Homo sapiens: one gene and its partner. The protein of the gene in region 2 interacts with the protein of the main gene of each other region in a biochemical or structural test. Each region holds a gene or a part of one and is shown on either strand. Other genes may lie near its edges. The genes, in order: UBE2G2 and RNF139.

Evidence for each region.
Region 1: the proteins of RNF139 (region 2) and UBE2G2 form a complex in vitro, tested with the Homo sapiens proteins (one study listed by BioGRID).

What each region holds. Positions count from the first base shown.
Region 1 is NC_000021.9:44,798,711-44,803,065, reverse strand, and holds the start of UBE2G2 (ubiquitin-conjugating enzyme E2 G2), read left to right. Parts: upstream 1-1,245; 5' UTR 1,246-1,317; coding exon 1,318-1,360; intron 1,361-1,667; exon of another isoform or gene 1,668-1,782; intron 1,783-4,355. UniProt on the Homo sapiens protein: Accepts ubiquitin from the E1 complex and catalyzes its covalent attachment to other proteins. In vitro catalyzes 'Lys-48'-linked polyubiquitination. Involved in endoplasmic reticulum-associated degradation (ERAD).
Region 2 is NC_000008.11:124,477,851-124,481,663, reverse strand, and holds part of RNF139 (E3 ubiquitin-protein ligase RNF139), read right to left. Parts: intron 1-3,813. UniProt on the Homo sapiens protein: E3-ubiquitin ligase; acts as a negative regulator of cell proliferation through mechanisms involving G2/M arrest and cell death.

The DNA of each region.
Region 1 (4,355 bases), on a different chromosome or scaffold from region 2:
GCAACATTTGAGCAAAGACTGAAAGAGCAGGTGGGAAGAGTCGGGGACAAGAGCCGCCAGAAAGTGTTTCCGGGGAGGGAAGAGTCAGGGACTCTGAACCAGGCCAGGGCAGCTGGAGTGGAGTGAGAGGGAGGGAGGGTCTGGGAGTATGGCGGGGTGACCGGAGGCAGAGCAAAGCACTGCAGGACTTCAGCTTTACTGAGTGAAATGGGCGGAGCAGAGTGTGAATGTGATCAGACTTCTTTTCAAGGGATCATCTGCAATGCTGGAAAGGAAAAGACAAATGATAGATTATTGCAACAAACAGCCAGGCAAGAGATGCAAACTTTTTTTGCAAAGGTGTGTGTGTATATACATCCTTGCACCGGACAGCCACGAAGCACCTACTGTGCTGTGAAGTCAGTAAGGATGTGGGTTAAAATCGCTCACCTCACAGCGGGTCAATCGGGAAAGCACACCCACTCACTACAGCCATTATGGGAAAAAGGGCTCGCCCCTTACAGGATCCTCAACTGTGGAGAGGCCGGGAGCCCACGCGGGGCGCTGGGGAGTCTCTCAGCACCCCAGGGGTTCGGGCAGGGACCTGAGCCGCGCCCTCTCTCCCGGGGGTGCCCTGGGGTCGAGGCTGCTCGGCAGAGCCGGCGGTCAGTTCGAGCCGCGGGCCCGAACAGGGCTCTCCCCGCGGCTCTCTCCCTCGGAGTAGAAGGTGCTGGACCCGAACTCCAGCGGAGCCGCACAACACGTGGAGGAAAAGCGCCAGGACAGCTAACCTTCCCACCTTTTCAAACCTGAAACCCGGCCGGCTGGGGACGGTTGGAATGTTCAGTGCGTACCCGCACCTCAGGCCCCTTGTCTCCAGCCCCAGACCGCCCCGCGACCATCCTCCCCACCCCCCGACCTCTTATCTCGTCCCCGCCCTGTCTCCCCAACCTCCATCCTCCCCTCCACAACCCCCGTCCTCCCGCCCTTCGGCCACGCGCGGCTGGCACAGAACAGGCAGTTAGCGCACACACACTGGAACAGGCGCCACCGTTCAGGAAGTCTCTACAAGACCAGGACCCTGAGGCCTCTGGAAGTGCCGGGACCGAACCAACCCCGCAGAGCGACTAAGGCGAGGGCAGGAGCCAAGAGAATCGTAGCCGCGGTCGCGGGTTGAGCTCCCACCACCCGGACAGCGCGCCTCGGCGATCGCGCACGCGCCACGCCCCGGAAGAGTTCCTGGGCCCGCGACGGTGGCCCGGAAGCAGTCCCCGGTGTCGGGGCAGGAGGCACGCGCGCGGCTGAGGCGAGGTCGCTCGGCGCAGCTGTTGCGGGGCCATGGCGGGGACCGCGCTCAAGAGGCTGATGGCCGAGTACAAACGTGAGTCTGGGGACCCGGGCCGTCAGCAGCGTCCCGCGTTCCTGCTCCCGGGCCCGCGTCGTCCGGCGGGGCTGGGGCAGGGAGCCTGGCGGGGGAGCCGGGCCCGGGGCCTCCACCGTGAGCCCCCCTGTGGGTCCCGCGGAGTGCCGCGCCCTGCGCCCGCTGCCCACTCTCACGCGTGAAGTCGTGAAGAGAAGCCTTCCCAGCATCAGTAAAGGCAGCGCCGGCGCCGTGTTAGTTGAGAGCACACACAGTTGAGTCTTTGCGGGCTTGTTTTTTTCTCTTCTATTTTTTCTTTTCTTGGCAGCCTTGAGAACGTGCAGTGAGAGCTTGAGGAAGAAGGCCTGACTTGCTGCTGCGGAATTAGGAGGGAAAAGTGTATGCGTTAAAAGGGGAAAGGCTCGTTGGTGGAGCTTTGAAAGGTCAGATTTTGGCTTTCCCTCTAATGAAGGAAAAGGGTTTTTGAACAGTGCCACCTGTCACTCCTCCTAGGTAGTGTTGAGGAAACCTCTTGAGTGCTTTCCTACCCGGTAAATTAGATATTTCTAATGTCTGAGGAGAGCGAAGGGAGAAATGAGAACCTAGGAACACTCGGCATTCCATCGTTTTACACCGAATGCCCGCTTGGAAGAACTGCTGCGAGAAGTCTTGGAATACCATTGTGTTGAAAGCGCCAGGAGCCTGAGTCGCCGATGGAGACGAGATAGTAGCCGGCTAAGAGCAGGGCCTGAGTTCAGACCCGGCCTCTCTGCTTGTTAGCTCTTTGACCTTGTTCCTCTCTCTGTCTCTGCAGTTTCCTTGTCTTAAAAGGTTAAACTTGATACTGCAGGTGAAGTGCTTAGCAAAATACCTGATGTGTAACCCTTAATAAAGTTAGCTGCTGCTTTTGTAATTAGATTGAGGATAATTTTGGAAGAAAGTTAAGCTAAAAGAATGAATGTGAGAAAAAAAATAAGTGGTGAATATACATGTAGCTTGATTTCGTAAAACTATTGGTGACACCGCCCAGTAAGAGTTGATGTTTGGCTTAAGCAGACCAAAACGTTGCAAATACAGGCTCACTCACGTATGGTCATTCTTCCCTTGGTATCTGGAGGGGATTGGTTCCAGGCCCCGCTGCAGATACCAGAATCCTCGGATGCTCAAGTCCCTACTATAAGGTGGCGTGGTATTTGCATTTAATGTATGCATAGCCTCTCATAACTTTTAAATCATCTCAAGGTTACTTATAGTACCTAATGCAATGTAAGTGCTGCACAAATAGTTACACTGATTTTTTTTACTTGTATTTTTAAATCGTCATTTTTTATTGTTATTTTTTTCAAATATTTTGTATTCCTGGTTGGTCGAATCCATGGATATGCAGCCGCAGATACACAGGGCCTCCTGTAAACGTTCAAATAACGCTCGCCACCTAGTGTCTGCTAAAGCAGAACATAAAGGCACACCTCAGTTTCCCGCGCGCTTTGCTTTATTGAGCTTCACTTCGCAGATCTTGCATTTTTTACAAGTTTACAAGTTTTTTACAAGCAACCCTGCATGGAAGCAAGTCTGTTGGCACCATTTTTGCTCGCTTCGTGTCTCTCTCTTACATTTTAATCTATTACTGTGATCTATGATCAGTAATCTTTGATGTTACTATTGTAATTATTTTGGGGCATCACAAACTATGCCCATAAAAGATGGTAGTCCTAATAAATGTTGTGTGTGCTTCACTGACTGGCTGTTTCCCCATCTCTCTCCCGGCCTCTCTCTTCCCTGAGACAAAACAACATTGAAATTAGGCCAATAGTAACTGTACAGTGGGCTCAAGTGTTGAAGTGAAGAGTTGCACTCTACCCACTTCAAATCAAAAGCTAGAAATGATTAAGTTTAGTGAGGAAGGAATGTTGAAAGTCAAGATAGGCTGAAAGCTGGGTCTCTTGTTAGCCAAGTTGTGAATGCAAAGGAAAAGTTCTTAAAGGAAATTAGAAGTGCTGCTCTGTTGAACACAATGAATGATAAAGTGAAAAAGCCTTACTGCTGATATGGAGAAAGTTTTAGTGGTTTGGATAGAAGATCAAACCAGCCATAACATTCCTTTAAGCCAAAGCCTAATCCAGAGCAAGGTCCTAACTCTTCAGTTTTATGAAGGCTGAGAGCAGTGAGGAAGCTGCAGAAGAAAAATTGGGAGCTAACAGAGGTTGGTTCATGAGATTGAAGTAAATAACCTGTCTCCATAACAGAAAAGCACAAGGTGAAGCAGCAAGGTCTCCAGAAGATCTAGCTAAGATCAAGATGAAAGTGGCTCCTAAATTAAGCAATAGATTTACAAGGTACGTAAAATAGCCTTATACGGTATTGGGAGGAGATGATGCCATATACAACGTAAACAGCTAGAGAGAAGTCAATGACTGGCTTCAAAGGACAGGGCGACTCTTGTTAGGGGCTAATGTCGGTCACTTTAAGTTGACTGAGTTGAAGCCAGTTCTCATTTATCATTCAGAAAATCTTAGGGCCCTTAAAAATTATGCTAAATCTACTCTGAGCTCTAGAGATGGAAAAACAACCTGGATGACAGCACATCTGTGTACAGCATGGTTTACTGAATATAAGCCCACTGTTGAGACCTACTGCTCAGAAAAAAAGATTATCTTCAAAATACTATTCCTGACAGTGCACCTGGTCACTCAAGAGCTCTGATGGAGAGGTATAAGGAGATAAATGTTTTTGTGCCTGCTAACACAACACCAATTCTGCAGCCCATGGATCCGGGAGCACTTTTGACTTATTTAAGAAATACATTTCATAAGGCCATAGCTGCCATGAAAAGTGATTTCTTTGATGGATCTGGGCAAAGAAAATCAAAAGTCTTCTGGAAAGGATTTATCATTCTAGATGGCATTAAGAACATCTGTGATTCATGGGAGGTCACCATATCAACAACAGGCGTTTGAAAAAGTTGATTTCAATGCTCATGGATGACTTTAAGGGGAGGAAGCAACTGCAGGTGTGG
Region 2 (3,813 bases):
ACTCAGAGATCTCAGTCCAATTCTCCAGTGATTAAGAGAGTTCACTAGAGTTTTCAAGGTAGCCAAAAAGAGGCAGGTATCCAAATCAATTCAGGAACTTTGAAACTATATATGAACTCAACTCATGAAAGAGTTCAGGCCTTTTCAATTTGGATTACCAAAAACAGGCAAATAAAAACAAAAGAAAAAATAAAAACTTACTATACATGTTACATAACAAAGTGTTTCACTCTTTTATGTGTAAAGTCTATTCATACCCTTACCCTCTTTTGGAAACTTATGACTAAAAATCAGGGTACAAAACATAATATTTACAATTCTCCAAGTACCCGAAATACCTCTAAAACAAAAAGCAACCTGTGGAAAAACATTTCAATACCTGACAGAATAAATATGGAAAAGCACAGAAATAAATGTTACTACTACCTTACTCCCAAGGGAGCCTTCCGCAATGAAGTTTACAACAAAGTGTCTTGAAATGTTGTTAATCTGTTGGTATACTTGATAAATTATAAAGAAAACATTTCTATTGGATTCTCATTTTAGGTTGAAAAAAAACCTGGTATTCTAAGTATTAACACAAAATTAAACTTTTGCTTTTAAACTAAACTTATAATAAGTATGCTTTTATCAAAAATATATGAACATGGATTTTAAAAAGCCAAACCCTACAGAGAGGTGTTAAATGAAGAGTTAAAGCAAGTTTTTCTAGTTTGTCTTTCCCATCTGTGATATCATAAAAAAAATATTAATATTTGGTCTTTGTCCCATTTTCTGACATAGCTTCTAAAATCCTTGGAATCTCTGGAGTGATGACTGTTTTGTACAATAATCAGATGACTGGTGCCTGGGGGCCCCTAGATAGCTTCAGGATGGGGGCTAGGTAGCCAGGGGAATCAGCCCAGTGATTAAGGGTTATAACTTTGATTCCTACCCCCAGCCGCCACTTCTGGGAAGAAAGAAGCTGAAACTTGAGTCCATAAACCAATGACTAGTGATCTAATCAATCTTGCCTATTTAATGAACTTCCATAGAAGCCCAAAAGGACTGAGTTCTGTGAGCTCTCAGATAGCTGAACACTGAAGCTCCACGCCCCTTCTCCTCTTCTCTCCTTCTTTGTCTCACCTTGTACATCTCCTTCCATCGGGTTAATTCATCTGTGTCCTTTGTAATTGCCTTTATAATAAATGGGTAAATGTAAGTACAGTAGTTCCCCCTTACCCAAGATTTGACTTCCTTTTTTTTTTTTTTTTTTTTTTAGTGATGGAGTCTCGCTCTGTTGCCCAGGCTGGAGTGCAGTGGTGCGATCTTTTGATTAACATAGGTTTTTAACCTCAATATCATTCGGTTTATCAATCTTCATTATGTATTTGCTTTTATATATTTTTAAGGATTTCTTCCTTAATCTAAGATTGGAAAAATAAAATATTCCATATTTTTTTCTAAAAATTTAAAGTTCTGCATTTCATATTTACATATACATCTAGGTAAGAATACACTTAGAAATGACTATTTTTTTTTTTTAAGAGACAGGGTCTTGCTCTGTCACCCAGCCAGGCTGGAGTGCAGTTATGCAATCATAGCTCACTTGCAGCCTTGAACTCCTAGGCCCAAGCGATCTTCTCACCCCAGCCTCCTGAGTAAGATAGGACTACAGGCACCCACCACCAAGTATGGCTATTATTTTAAATATTTATTTTTGCAGAGACAGGGTCTCACTACACTGCTCAACCTAGAAGTGACTGTCTATATATTGACATAAGGTAGACATCTAGTATAATTTATTTCCAAAGGTGTAACAAAATGATCATTAATTCAACAGTCCATATTTACCTCAATGTACTTCAATTCTATCTCTGAAACACATTATTTCTATATATACATTGGTGTCTGTTTCTGGGCTATGTAATTATAAATAAGGCTAAGTACTAATCTATTTGTCTATCCCAATGGTTCTCAACCATGATTTGGCAATATCCAGGGACAGTTTTGGCTGTCACACTGGGGTGTGGGGGTGCAAGGTGCTACTGGCATCTAATGGGCAGGGGATAGTGATGCTGCTAAAAATCTTACAGTGCACAGGAGAGCTCCCATCCGCAAACAAAGAATTATCCTGTCCAAAATGTCAATACTGCCACTGTTGAGAAATCTCTGTCTATTCCTCTGCCAGTGATAATTACTTCGGCTTTGTTTTTTCACTTCAGAGGTTTTCTGAAGTCTTTTTCGGCACCAAAAATAGCTATCTCATTTCTTTCAAGAACTTTATTGCATGGCTAGACCTAATACAATGAACAGATTTGTATCAATACATATTTAGATTAAGTTTGTTGCTTTGTTATTTCCAGTAATGCTTGCCCATAGTCCTTAAGCAAACTATCTCTCTAGGCCAATTCCCTAGAATTGAAATTGTGAGTCAAAAGTTGTACGAGCCAGGCATCCCAGCTACTTGGGAGGCTGAGGCAGGAGAATCGCTTGAACCTGGGAGGTGGAGGTTGCAGTGTGCTGAGATCACGCCACTGCACTCCAGCCTTGGTGACAGAGTGAGACTGTCTCAAAAACAAAACAAAACACTGAGAAGTCAGTTGTAAATGACAGTTGATACTGCCAAATGGTTTTACACTGAAATTAAGAGTCTTCCGGGCCAGGCACGGTGGCTCACGCCTGTAATCCCAGCACTCTGGGAGGACGATGTGGGCAGATCACCTGAGGTCGGGAGTTGGAGAACAGCCTGACCAACATGGAGAAAACCTGTCTCTACTAAAAATAGAAAAAAATTTGCCGGGGGTGGTGGCGCTTGCCTGTAATCATCCTAGCTACTCGGGAGGCTGAGGCCGGAGAATCGCCCGAACCTGGGAGGTGGAAGTTGTGGTGAGCCGAGATCACGCCATTGCACTCCGGCCTGGGCAACAAGAGCAAACTCCGTCTCAAAAAAAAAAAAAAGTCTTCCAAAATTGTATAAATTTACCTATTTCAAAAAGGTAAATACCTTTGCAAAACTAATAAAACTTTGAACTCTTCACCAATCTGATAAATTTTTTTTGACTTTTTTTTTTTTTTTGAGACAGTCTCGCTCTATCGCCCAGGCTGGAGTGCAGTGGCGCGATCTTGGCTCACTGCAACCTCCACCTCCCCGATTCGAGAGATTCTCGTGCCTCAGCCTCCACAGTAGCTGGGACTATGGGCAGGAGTCACTGCACCCGGCTAATTTTTTGGTAGACACGGGTTGTGCCATTTGGCCAAGCTGGTGTCAAACTCCTGGCCTCAAGCAATCTGCCTGCCTCAGCCTCCCAAAGTGCTGGGATTATAGGCGTGAGCCACCGTAAGCGGTCTTGACAGTATTTAATTATAAACAAGGCTAGGTACTTTTTTTTTTCCCCCATAAAATCAAGCTACTGCAGGAAGGGCTAAATACTTTTTCTCTTGCTTATTGAACATCTGCATTTTGTTTATTGTGAATTGCTTGTCTTAGGCATTTTCCTAAGGGAGTATAAGTTTTTTCTTGTTTTGTTTTGTTTTTTTTTTTAGACAGAGTCTCACTCTATCCCCAGGCTGGAGTGCAGTGGAGCGATCTCGGCTCACTGCAACCTGCAACTCCCTGGTTCAAGCGATTCTCCTGCCTCAGCTTCCCTGGCAGGGTAAAACTCTTACTGGAACGTGAATCACTTATGATAGAAGTATTTTATCTCAGTTTGTCATTTAAGGATTCTTTTTTAAGCTTTGCCATAAAAAAGCTTTTTATTTTTATGTACTGAAATTTTTCAGATTTTTCCTTGGAACTTCTGGGTCTTCTGTTATGTTTAAAGCCTTTTCCCA